Regions from separate parts of the Homo sapiens genome. Here region 1 is linked to region 2. A link means that fine-mapping ties the variant in region 2 to the expression of a gene that starts in the linked region. Tissue or cell type: esophagus mucosa. Region 2 holds a variant in brackets; the other region holds the start of a gene. All regions are shown on one strand. Distances are from middle to middle.

Region 1 (5,216 bases), 39 kb before region 2:
AAAGGACCTCTGAGCCAAGGTGGCAACAAGCATTGGACCACTGGAGCTACAGGGCAGAAAGAGACAGGAACAGGGACCTGGTGGAAAGTTAAGCAAGAAAATCCAAGCAGTAGGCCAGGCGCGGTGGCTCATGCCTGTAATCCCAGCACTTTAGGAGGCCGAGGAGGGTGGATTACGAGGTCAAGAGATCGAGACCATCCTGGCCAACATGATGAAACCCTGTCTCTACTAAAAATACAAAAAATTAAAAAATTAGCCAGGTGTGGTGGTAGGCGCCTGTAATCCCAGCTACTTGGGAGGCTGAGGCAGAAGAATAGCTTGAATCTGGGAAGCAGAGGTTGCAGTGAGCCAAGATGGCACCATTGCACTCCAGCCTGGGCAAAAAGAGTGAAACTCCATCTCAAAAAAAAAAAAAAAAAAAAAATCCAGGCAGTATGACAGATTACAGTTAGACAGCAGGAAGGACTTTCCAGAAGTGGAGGCTAATTCTGGCTGCACATGACCTTGATAAAAAGGGATGAGGAAGGGAGAGGAGTCATTTAACTGCCCCTCCATTATTATGAAACAGAATCCCTTTCTCTTGACTGCCAGGGGATTTAAAATACATTAAATAAAGCATATGAGCTAAACCCCAGTCAGTATCTCATTCCTCAGGTTCACAGGAGTAGGGATGGCCTAATTGTTGTCTGGGGCACCCCAACCCCTCTAAGACCTGAGTTCCCAACCCTGATCAAGGTTAAAGGGGTGGAGGTCTTGGGGCTGCTCGGCTCTCAGGGGTCTCCTTGCCCAAGGAAGGTGGTGACTCCAGCAGGCAGAGCTGGCCTTCCCGCTTTCACTGCCTCCTCTCTCCAAGTCCTATTTTATCCTCCGCCTTCTTTTCTACATAATCTGGGAAAAGGAATATGGAAGCCCCTTAAACTGAAAAAGTCATGGGAAAGAGGTAAGCATAAGCTGGAGGAAGTAAGAAGCAGGAAGAATGGGAGTTAGATAGTAGAAAGAATTTTCTAGCTATTTTCTAATAATGAAGGACAAGGCCAGGCATGGTGGCTCACGCCTATAATCCCAGCACTTTGGGAGGCTGAGGCAGGCGAATATCACTTGAGGTCAGGAGTTTGAGACCAGCCTGGCCATCCTGGTGAAACCTCATCTCTACCAAAGTACAAAAGTTAGGTGGGCGGTGTGGCATGGGCCTGTAGTCCCAGCTACCTGGGGAGGCTGAGGTGGGAGGATCACTTGAACCTGGGGGCAGAGGTTTCAGTGAGCCTAGATTGTGCCACTGTACTCCAGCATGGGTGACAGAGTGAGACCCTGCCGAAAAAAAAAAAAGGAAAAGAAAGACAGAAGGACTGTCCCTCCCTGGACTGTCAGGGGATGGGCTGGAGGGGGTCCTTCTGGGGGACAAGGAAAGAAGCTGGCTCAGGACCAGGGCATCTCTTTAGGCCCAGCTCAGAGTGAAGCCAGGAAGGGTGGCTGTGGGGTGCTGGTGATTGGGAGCCTCTGCTGTCACTGCTGTTCACTGCAGAGCAGGACTGTGGGCTGGCCCCATGGCCTGAGCCCCAGGACTGGCTGGGTGGGGGTCCGAAGGGCTGGGGCACCTGCCAGCCTCTCTTCTATGCTCGACTCCCCCTCCTCTCTGGGATCCTGGGCTGAGACTCTGGCTGGGAGGGGCTTACCCTACACTGAGGGGCACCCCGTCTCCCCACCCCCTGCACTAAATCTTCCCTTGTGTCTCAATGTCTAGGGGTCTCTAAAGGGAAGGGGGCCTCTAAGCCTTTTTCTGTCTTCCCCCCTTTCTGATCCTGGGTCTCCTCATCTTTGTTTCTGACTTTCTCTGCCTCTCTCTGCGCTGTCTCTATCTTGTCTCTGCCTTTCTCATGCTTTCTGGGTCTCTGGATCTCTGTTTCTGACCATCTCTGGCTGGCTGTTTCTCTTTGCTTCCCTCTCCCTCCCTCCCTATCCCCGTGCTAGTTCTGGGTTCGGTGCCCTTGTCCTCTTTCCTGGGCCTGGATGGCCCTCTATCTGGGCCGGTCCCTTAGAGGCCGGGCAAGCGTCTCCTGGAGACCGCCTCTCTTCGCCAGGCTGGGCTCTGACGTCCAGCTCTCAGGCAGCGCTCGCCTCTGCCTCAGCCCGGTTGCAGGTCTGTGGCCCTTGAGCGAGGCCGCCGGGGCACCCAGAAGGGAGCGCGGGGTGGGTGGTGGGAAGGGGGAGGGGCGAGGGGGCGGACCCCGGGGGGGGCCCCCCCACACCGCGCTCGGCCCCGCCCCCGGCCCCGCCCCTCCCGGGTCCCTGCCGGCGCCCCCAGCCGTGCCCCGGCCGCAGAGCCGCCGCTGCCACCCGATGAATGGAGTCGCCTTCTGCCTGGTCGGGATCCCGCCCCGCCCGGAGCCCCGGCCCCCACAGGTGAGGGTGCTGGGCCAGGGAAGTGGGCGGGGCCGGTAGCTGCTGGGGAGCGGGCTGCCAAGCCAGGGTCGCTGCGACCCCGCTCGCCCTGCACAGCCTGGGGCGCACGGTGGGCGCGGGCACCGCGGGCACCGCTGCGGGGAGATTCAGCTGGTGGCAGGCCCGGGAGGGGGCCCGAGCAAGAGCTGTCCGGGGTAGAGGGGTGGGAAGGACGGAAGCAGGCAAGGGGTCGGGACGGGCACGGGGCTGTCAGGACAGGGGGCACAGACCCAGGTGGCGGTGCCAGGCCCCCAGCGGCTGGGCAGCGGGGGCGGGAGGCCCGCGGCTTTTGTTCGGGTTTTTCAGGCGGGGCGCCTGCCGCCGTTTCCTCTGCCCGAGTTTTCGTTTTCCGTTGGCGAGGCCCCGGCACAGCTGGAGGGAGAGGGGGTGGGGGAGGGGGTTCCCGGAGCGGGACGTCCTCCACTAAGGCGTCCGGACACCCCCTCCCCGCGCCACACTCGCCCCCTGCCGGGTCGGACTGCGGGACGGGTTGCCAGGCGCGGTTCCGCCGCCCTCCTGGATCCTGGGGAAGTTCTAGACACAGGCCCAGGACCCCGGGCTCTGCCGGCGAGGCTGCCCTCCCCTCTGCCCTCTCCGACCGGCTGTGGGTGGGTCAGAGCGCGGGGTGCCAGGGGCATTACTCAGCGCTGGGCTGCTCTGCCTGGGTTCTTTCATCTGCCAGCTGCTGAGGCTGGGGAGGGGCCAGCAGGGGCCTCCCAGCCCCATCCCCCCATCAGGGCCATTCCCTTACCTCTGAGCCTGGCTGCCCGCCCTGCAGGAGCCCCCCAGCAGGCCTCCCTGCTCCTAAGTTGAAGGGTTGAACACTGTCAGGCCAACAGTTTCCCTGAGCTCGGAAAAGAAATTCCCCGGGGTCCAGGTTGAGGTCAAGGCCAGGGCTGAGGCCTGTTCCTCTTTAGACAGGGCTGAAAGACTTGGGGACCCTCCTCCCCAGCTTTCCCGGCAGTGTTGAAGGTGGGATCTGGTGCTTGCAACTCTTTTGGAGACTGGTGTGTTCCTTGGTTGCTGGATGTGTGTTCAGTTCTCCCTCAATCTGCATCTCTCCCCGACTCCCTTCAGCCAAAGTGTGTTTCCTAATTATGAACTTGAAATTCAGGATGGACGGGGGGTGGGGGTGGAGGTCATGAATCCAAGCATGAGTCCCTTGGATTCAATCCCCCACCAGCAACACATACTTCATCTCTATCCCCTGCACCCCTCTCTGTCTCCACCCCAACCCTGCGGCCTAGCTGGGGGTGAGTGGCTTTTGATCCCATGTGGTTCTCCCCTCTGCCAGGGCAACAGACCCCATTCCCCAAAGTGACAGCTCTCACTGCCATGTGCTCCTTGGCATGCGATTTGAATCTCGATTATATAACCAGTCATTTCGCCTCCAAAGGCAGCCCAAAGGCCCCCGGCCCCAGCGGCTTCTTCCACTTGCCCACAGTGTGGTTGGGTCCACCCCAAGGTGGCTGGGAATTCCAAGATCCTGCATCTGAGGACCTGACCTCTTCTTGGGAACCATGGGAGCAGTAAATCCTCTACATTCAGTGCTGGATTCAAAGGCCTCAATAATAATAAACAGGAAGAATGGGAGTGGGCAGGGTAGGTGTTGGTGTCCCATTTCACAGAGAGGGTCTGAGCCTATGTAGTGACAGTGCCCAGGCAAGAACCCAGGACACTTGAGGGTAGTCAGGGCACAAGATGAAGCTTGGGGAGGAAAGCTGTTAGGAAGGTGTCTGACTACGGGAATAGGTCAGGCTTGTGTGGATCCCAGCCCAAGCAGAGAAGGACTGGGTGGGGGGAAGAGGCCCTGTGCTTGTGCCCCTCTCCTCGGGCTGACCCTGGCTCACGGGGAAGAAGTGCAGCATTCTTGGCATGGATGGGAGTGGGGGTGAGGGAGGGTGCTGGTTCTGAGCAGAGCAGTGCAGGAGTGGGTAGTGGATTGCTTCATCCTACATTGCAGGGATACTCAGAAGGACTTCTTGATGTGTAAGGTTAAAAGAGAGACTACAAAGCAGCAGCATGGAAGAAGTTACAGTGTGAGGGACTGCAGTTAGATACTCAGGAGAACTTCTAGGGAGGGGCTTGTGACCCACAGCATCCCAGGCTAGCCATGCAGGGAAGTTTCCTCCAGTATAGTGGGTCAAGTGGATTCTTGTGAAGTTGGATTCCAATGTAGAAACCTGGAGATGGTCATTGGAGATATCAAATATTCCAGCAAATATATTCAAATGAGCACTGGTGCCTGGAAACAAAAAATGTGTTTTTAAGAAAGGGGAGTTGCTTTCACAGTATAGCTCATAGTTAATACACAGACAGCAAAAACTCCTGGCCAGTATTTATAAAAACTACCTCATTTGATCCTCACAATACCACTAAGAGGTAGATACCATTATTATCCCCATTTTACAGTTGAGGACACTGAGGCATAGCCAATATTGCAGCCCAAATCACACCCCCAGTGCACTGTGGAGCCAGGGTAGGAATGTGGCAGTCTGGCTCTAGAGTCTGGCTCTCACCCTCACTATCTGGCTTCTCAGGACCTGCTATGTCCCGCTGTCACTCCCACCCCAAATCCGTGTCCATTTTCTACACAGCCCAAGATCAAGGTCAGCTTCTGGCTGGATTGCAGCTTAGTTGCTTGTCTTTTGTTCTATTTCTTTACTCCTCCAATCTTTCCCACCCTGCCCCATGCTAGCCCATAGCACTGGGCCAGGGCTCGGTTCACTGGTGTTTTCCTTCCAAAGGGGCATGAAGCCCTGCTCTGTTGGCTGCAG
Region 2 (5,216 bases):
CAGCGTCAGCCTCAGCTCCCAGTGCCAAATTCCAGGCCCAGGGGTGGCAGAAGGTGGCTCAAGTCCCCTCCTTCAAGCCTGGCAGGAGGTGGGCAAACTCCTTCTCACCCCTGTGGCTCAGGAGCCAGCTCCCCATTCCCGGGGATGGAGGGACAGCTGGGCTCTGCCAGCCTCTGCCCCACCCAGACACACCCCTAGCCGGCTTTCTTCTCTCATCTGCCACCTTGACTGGTCTCGGTGGGGTTTTCCGGCTCCACCCGAGGAGCTTTGGGCATTGGTGGACATAAGGGGGCAGGCAGGCGGTGGAGGCCAGGACTGGGGGAGGACCCCAGGAAACAGATGCTGGAATGTTTGTGGCTAGGGCAGTCCTTGTCACAGTCTTAGCGAAATCCCACTTTTGCTGGAGTTTGCCTGCGTCTCAAAGGCTTCTTGCTTCTTCTTTGTTCTCTCCCTGGACCTGCCCTTCCACCCCCACCCACTTATGCCTCTCCCTCGTTCCCCCCACCGCTTGGTCCTCTCCCTTCATTTCCCTCCTGGGCTCCTTGACCTCCTCGGGCTGCCGTTCCCCTACCCTGTGGGACTTGTCTGGCCCTGCTTACCTGTCTCTGTGTCTCTGGCCAGGCCTACTCCCAGGATGCCTACCTGAAAGGGAACGAGCCGTATTCTGGAGAGGCCCGCAGCATCCCAGAGCCACCCCCGATCTGCTACCCCCGCAAGACCTACGCCCCTCCTGCCCGGGCCTCCACCAGGGCCACTATGGTGCCTGAGCCCACCTCAGCACTGCCCAGTGACCCCCGGAGTCCTGCTGCCTGGAGTGACCCGGGGCTCCGTGTGCCACCTGCTGCCCGTGCCCACCTGGACAACTCTTCCTTGGGGATGAGCCAGCCCCGCCCCAGCCCTGGTGCCTTCCCCCACCTCTCCTCGGAGCCCCGGACGCCCCGTGCCTTCCCAGAGCCTGGCAGCCGGGTGCCCCCCAGCAGACTGGAGTGCCAGCAGGCCTTGTCACACTGGCTGTCAAACCAGGTACCCCGCCGGGCGGGGGAGAGACGGTGCCCAGCCATGGCCCCCCGGGCCCGCAGCGCCTCCCAGGACCGGTTGGAGGAGGTGGCTGCCCCCCGCCCGTGGCCCTGCTCCACCTCCCAGGATGCTTTGAGCCAGCTGGGCCAGGAGGGCTGGCACCGAGCTCGCTCAGATGACTACTTGAGCCGGGCCACCCGTTCTGCCGAGGCACTGGGGCCAGGGGCACTGGTGTCACCCCGCTTTGAGCGGTGTGGCTGGGCTTCCCAGCGTTCGTCTGCCCGCACCCCCGCCTGCCCAACTCGGGACCTGCCAGGGCCCCAGGCCCCACCCCCGTCTGGCCTGCAGGGCCTGGATGACCTCGGGTACATCGGCTACCGGAGCTACAGCCCATCATTCCAGCGCCGGACCGGCCTCCTCCATGCGCTCTCCTTCCGGGACTCACCCTTTGGGGGGCTGCCTACCTTCAACCTGGCCCAGTCCCCTGCGTCATTCCCACCAGAGGCCTCCGAGCCACCCAGGGTTGTACGGCCGGAACCCAGCACCCGGGCCCTGGAGCCTCCTGCGGAGGATCGCGGCGATGAGGTGGTCCTGAGGCAGAAGCCCCCGACGGGCCGCAAGGTTCAGCTGACCCCCGCAAGACAGATGAACCTTGGATTTGGTGACGAGTCCCCAGAGCCAGAGGCCAGTGGGCGAGGGGAACGCCTGGGCAGGAAGGTGGCCCCTTTGGCCACCACCGAAGACTCTCTGGCTTCCATCCCCTTTATTGGTGAGTGATGGTACATGTGGCTGTCCTGGGGGACTTAGCTGTCGGCTGTCTGTGTCCTGCTGTACCCCATCTGCCTGTCTGCCATGGGCAGAATTCGGCTGGGTGCTGGTGGGATCATCTTGTTTCTCTGTCAATTCATTCATCTGTTCATCCATCCATCCATCTGTTCTTCCATCTTTCTTTCTGTTCTCTGTCATCCTTTCTTCCATCCTACCTCTCATTCATTTATCCTTTCAGCATCTTTCCACGCACTCTTTCTTTTTTCCCTCTCCCCATCCATCCATCCATCCATCATCTGTTCTTCCTTCCTTCTTTCCTTCCTCTCTCCCTCCTTTGTTCATTCATTTGTTCCATCCATTCATCCATCTATCCATCCATCTATTCTTCCTTCTTTCCTTCCTCTCTCCCTCCTTCTTTTGTTCATTCATTTGTTCCATCCTTTCTTCCACCCATTCATCCATCTTTCTTTCCTTTGACTCTTCCTTCCATTCTCCCATTCTTCCTTCCATCTTCCCTTTGTATCTTTCCCTCTTTGTCCTTTCCATCCACCCTCCATCCCTCCATCGACTCAACAGATATTTGTGTCAGGCCCTGTGCATGGCTCCATGCTCTCCTGGACTGGATGGCCCAGCAGAGGGTGTTGGACATGCAGGGACAATCCATTGGGATGGGCGTGTCGTGGGACAGGGAGCTTGAGGAGACGGGCTCAGAGAAGGGCTATGGTGAGAATCTTGGAGAAAGAACATTTGGGCTAAGACTTGAAGGATGAGAAGGAGTTTATCAGGGGAAGAATATTCAAGGAGAGGGAATAGAATATGCAAAGACCCTGAAGGGAGAGAGGCAGGACCCCCTTCCAGGTTGTGAGGACCCTTTCAGGCCCAAGGGTCTCATTAGTCACTGGGGTTGGCTTTTGAGAGCAGAGGGAACCCTCTAAGGCTTGCCTTGCCTTCGACTGGATGCAGGAGAGGGAGAGGCAAGAGAGTAGAGTGGCTGGGTGATGCCCAGGTTTCTGGCCGGGCTTGGGGGTGGTGCCTCACCCCCGTGTTGGGAGTGAGAGGGGGACAAAGTTCAGGACTGTTGAATATGAGGTGTCCAAGAGGGAGCAGGATAGACGGGGCTGGGGAGAAAGAGCAAGATGCAGGGTAATGGAGAGGGATGGTGGTAGATGGGAGATGAGCTCACCCTACCAGACAGTGAGAGGGAGGAGGCCTGGGGCAGGGGGAAGACACAGCCCTGGCTCCCCCAGCCAGCCTTCGGTGGAGCAGAGACACAGCCCCTTCTGCTAGTAAGGAAGGCTCTAGGCTGTGGCCGGGAGAGGCAGTCTCTTCTTCCACAGC[A/G]CAGTCTGTTTGAGGGGGAGATGTCATCTCTGCCCTTGAGGAGCCCCAGCTGATGGGGGAGCTTTTGCCCTTAGGAAGCTCTCAGTCTGATGGGGAAGACACTGCCCCTGCCCTCAGGAGGCTCTTGGTCTGAGAGGGGAGACATAATTCATTCTCTCTGAGTGCCCTCAGTCTGATGAGGGAGACACCGTCCCTGCCCTCAGCAGGCTCCCAGTCTGATGGGGGAATATTGGCTCTGTCCTCTGGAGCCCGGTCTAAGGAGGGTGGCTCAGCCCCACTCCTGAGGGTAAGGATTCCATGGCCACAGTCTGGACAGTGGGCCAGTCATGCTTGACAGTGGGCATGTTGCCAGCAGGACCCTTTGGGATGTGTCTGAGCCTGGAGGCGAGTGGCACGGGGGCTGGCAAGGCTAGGGTGGAGGCAGGCAGGCTCCGCTGTCTGCTGCCTTCACACCTTTCTCCTTCCACATGCATAGATGAGCCCACCAGCCCCAGCATTGACCTCCAAGCCAAGCACGTCCCTGCCTCTGCTGTGGTCTCCAGTGCCATGAACTCAGCCCCTGTCCTGGGCACCAGCCCATCTTCCCCGACCTTCACTTTCACCCTCGGACGCCATTACTCGCAGGACTGCAGTGAGCACTCCCCACACCCCCAGCCCCACCCTCTCCCTCGCTGCCCAGTCCCAGGGGTCTCTGTTGGGCCTGCTGCTTGATGTCTGGCCTCTTCCTCTGGTTTCCGCTTCTCCTGCGGCCCCTTGGGAGAGTCACCTCCTGCCCCTGCCCAGAAGGGAGGGCTCTGGGAAGCCCCTGACCTGCTGCCCCGCTGACCCTGAGGCCCGATGTGGGCGGCTTTGCAGGCAGCATCAAGGCTGGCCGCCGCTCCTCCTACCTGCTGGCCATCACCACGGAGCGCTCCAAGTCCTGCGATGATGGACTCAACACCTTCCGCGACGAGGGCCGGGTTCTGCGGTGAGGCCCTGTCCGGACACGGGGTGGGGTGGCCACAGCCACCGTGGCCAGCTGCTCTGGGGCAGGGCTCTTGGCCCTGGGGGTCCTCTATGCATGGGACAGTGTGCCTCCCCCGCTGGAAGGCTTCTGGGCTTGGGGTTTGGTGGGTGACGAGATAGTGAGGTCCCAGCTTTGCTGCCCACATCCCTCACCCTCGACCCTCGCTTTCCAGGCGCCTGCCAAACCGCATACCCAGCCTGCGGATGCTCCGGAGCTTCTTCACCGACGGGGTGAGAGCTGCAAGTGTGTGTGCGTGCGCAGGAGCGAGGGTGTGGGGAGAGAGGGTGTCAGGGAGGTGGGGCCACAGCCTCGGCATGGGGGTTCCTGCTCCAGCTCCTGCCTTCCTCCTCCTCCCTGCACCCCTCACCCTCGTGTCCACCGCGGGACCCGCCCTCTGCTGTGGGCCCCGACATCCCTGAATGACACCATGCAGCCCCGCCCATGGGCCCTCGTCTGGACTGCCTCTTTCCAGACCCATCCCCCATAGCCACATGACTCACTTCTCCCCTGTCTTCGCGGCTTTTTAGGTCTTCCCTGAAATTCCAGCCTCCGCTCCTGACATTTCACGCCTCCCTTCGCTACTCTATGTTTTCCTCCTCAGCACGCCTCATGCACAATTGGTGTTTCCCTTCCTCCCTGCCTGGCTCCCCAGCTAGAATAGAAGCTCCCTGAACTTATATTTGGGGCTTCATTTGTTTCCTTCACTACCCTCAGTCAGTATTTGCATCGCGTCTTGTCTTCATGGGATGGGGTCGGGGTGGACACTGGAAAGGTGTGGCCGGGACACAGGGTTGAGACTGGTGGACAGGTAGAGTTCCCAGCCTCAGGACCTGGGGAGGCAGGATCAGGCCTGTGATAGCCCTGGCTGTTTGTTTGTTTTGAGACAGAGTCTCACTCCATTGCCCAGTCTGGAGTGCAGTGGCATGATCTTGGCTCACTGCAACCTCCACCTCCTGGGTTCAAGCTATTCTCCTGCCTCAGCCTCCCGAGCAGCTGGGATTACAGGCGTGTGCCACCACGCCTGGGTAATTTTTGTATTTTTAATAGAGACTGGGTTTCACCATGTTGGCCAGACTGGTCTCGAACT

Evidence for each region. PIP is the estimated chance that this variant, and not a neighbour inherited with it, causes the effect. A credible set is the group of variants that fine-mapping cannot tell apart.
Region 1: it holds the start of ARHGAP23, and the variant in region 2 is the best candidate, but not a certain one, in a credible set for the expression of ARHGAP23 in esophagus mucosa (GTEx, PIP 0.82).

What each region holds. Positions count from the first base shown.
Region 1 is chr17:38,426,149-38,431,364 of GRCh38, forward strand. ARHGAP23 (Rho GTPase activating protein 23) reads left to right here and starts at 2,316. Exons shown (of 24, transcript NM_001199417.2): 1 at 2,316-2,400. The coding sequence starts at 2,338. RefSeq lists enhancers at 2,480-3,389, 3,390-4,297.
Region 2 is chr17:38,465,546-38,470,761 of GRCh38, forward strand. ARHGAP23 (Rho GTPase activating protein 23) reads left to right here. Exons shown (of 24, transcript NM_001199417.2): 7 at 622-1,786; 8 at 3,599-3,754; 9 at 3,979-4,090; 10 at 4,302-4,359. Among named protein-coding and RNA genes, the nearest start is that of ARHGAP23, 40 kb to the left of the region's middle. RefSeq lists enhancers at 1-78, 3,730-4,366. The variant A/G (reference allele first, on the strand shown) is at 3,124.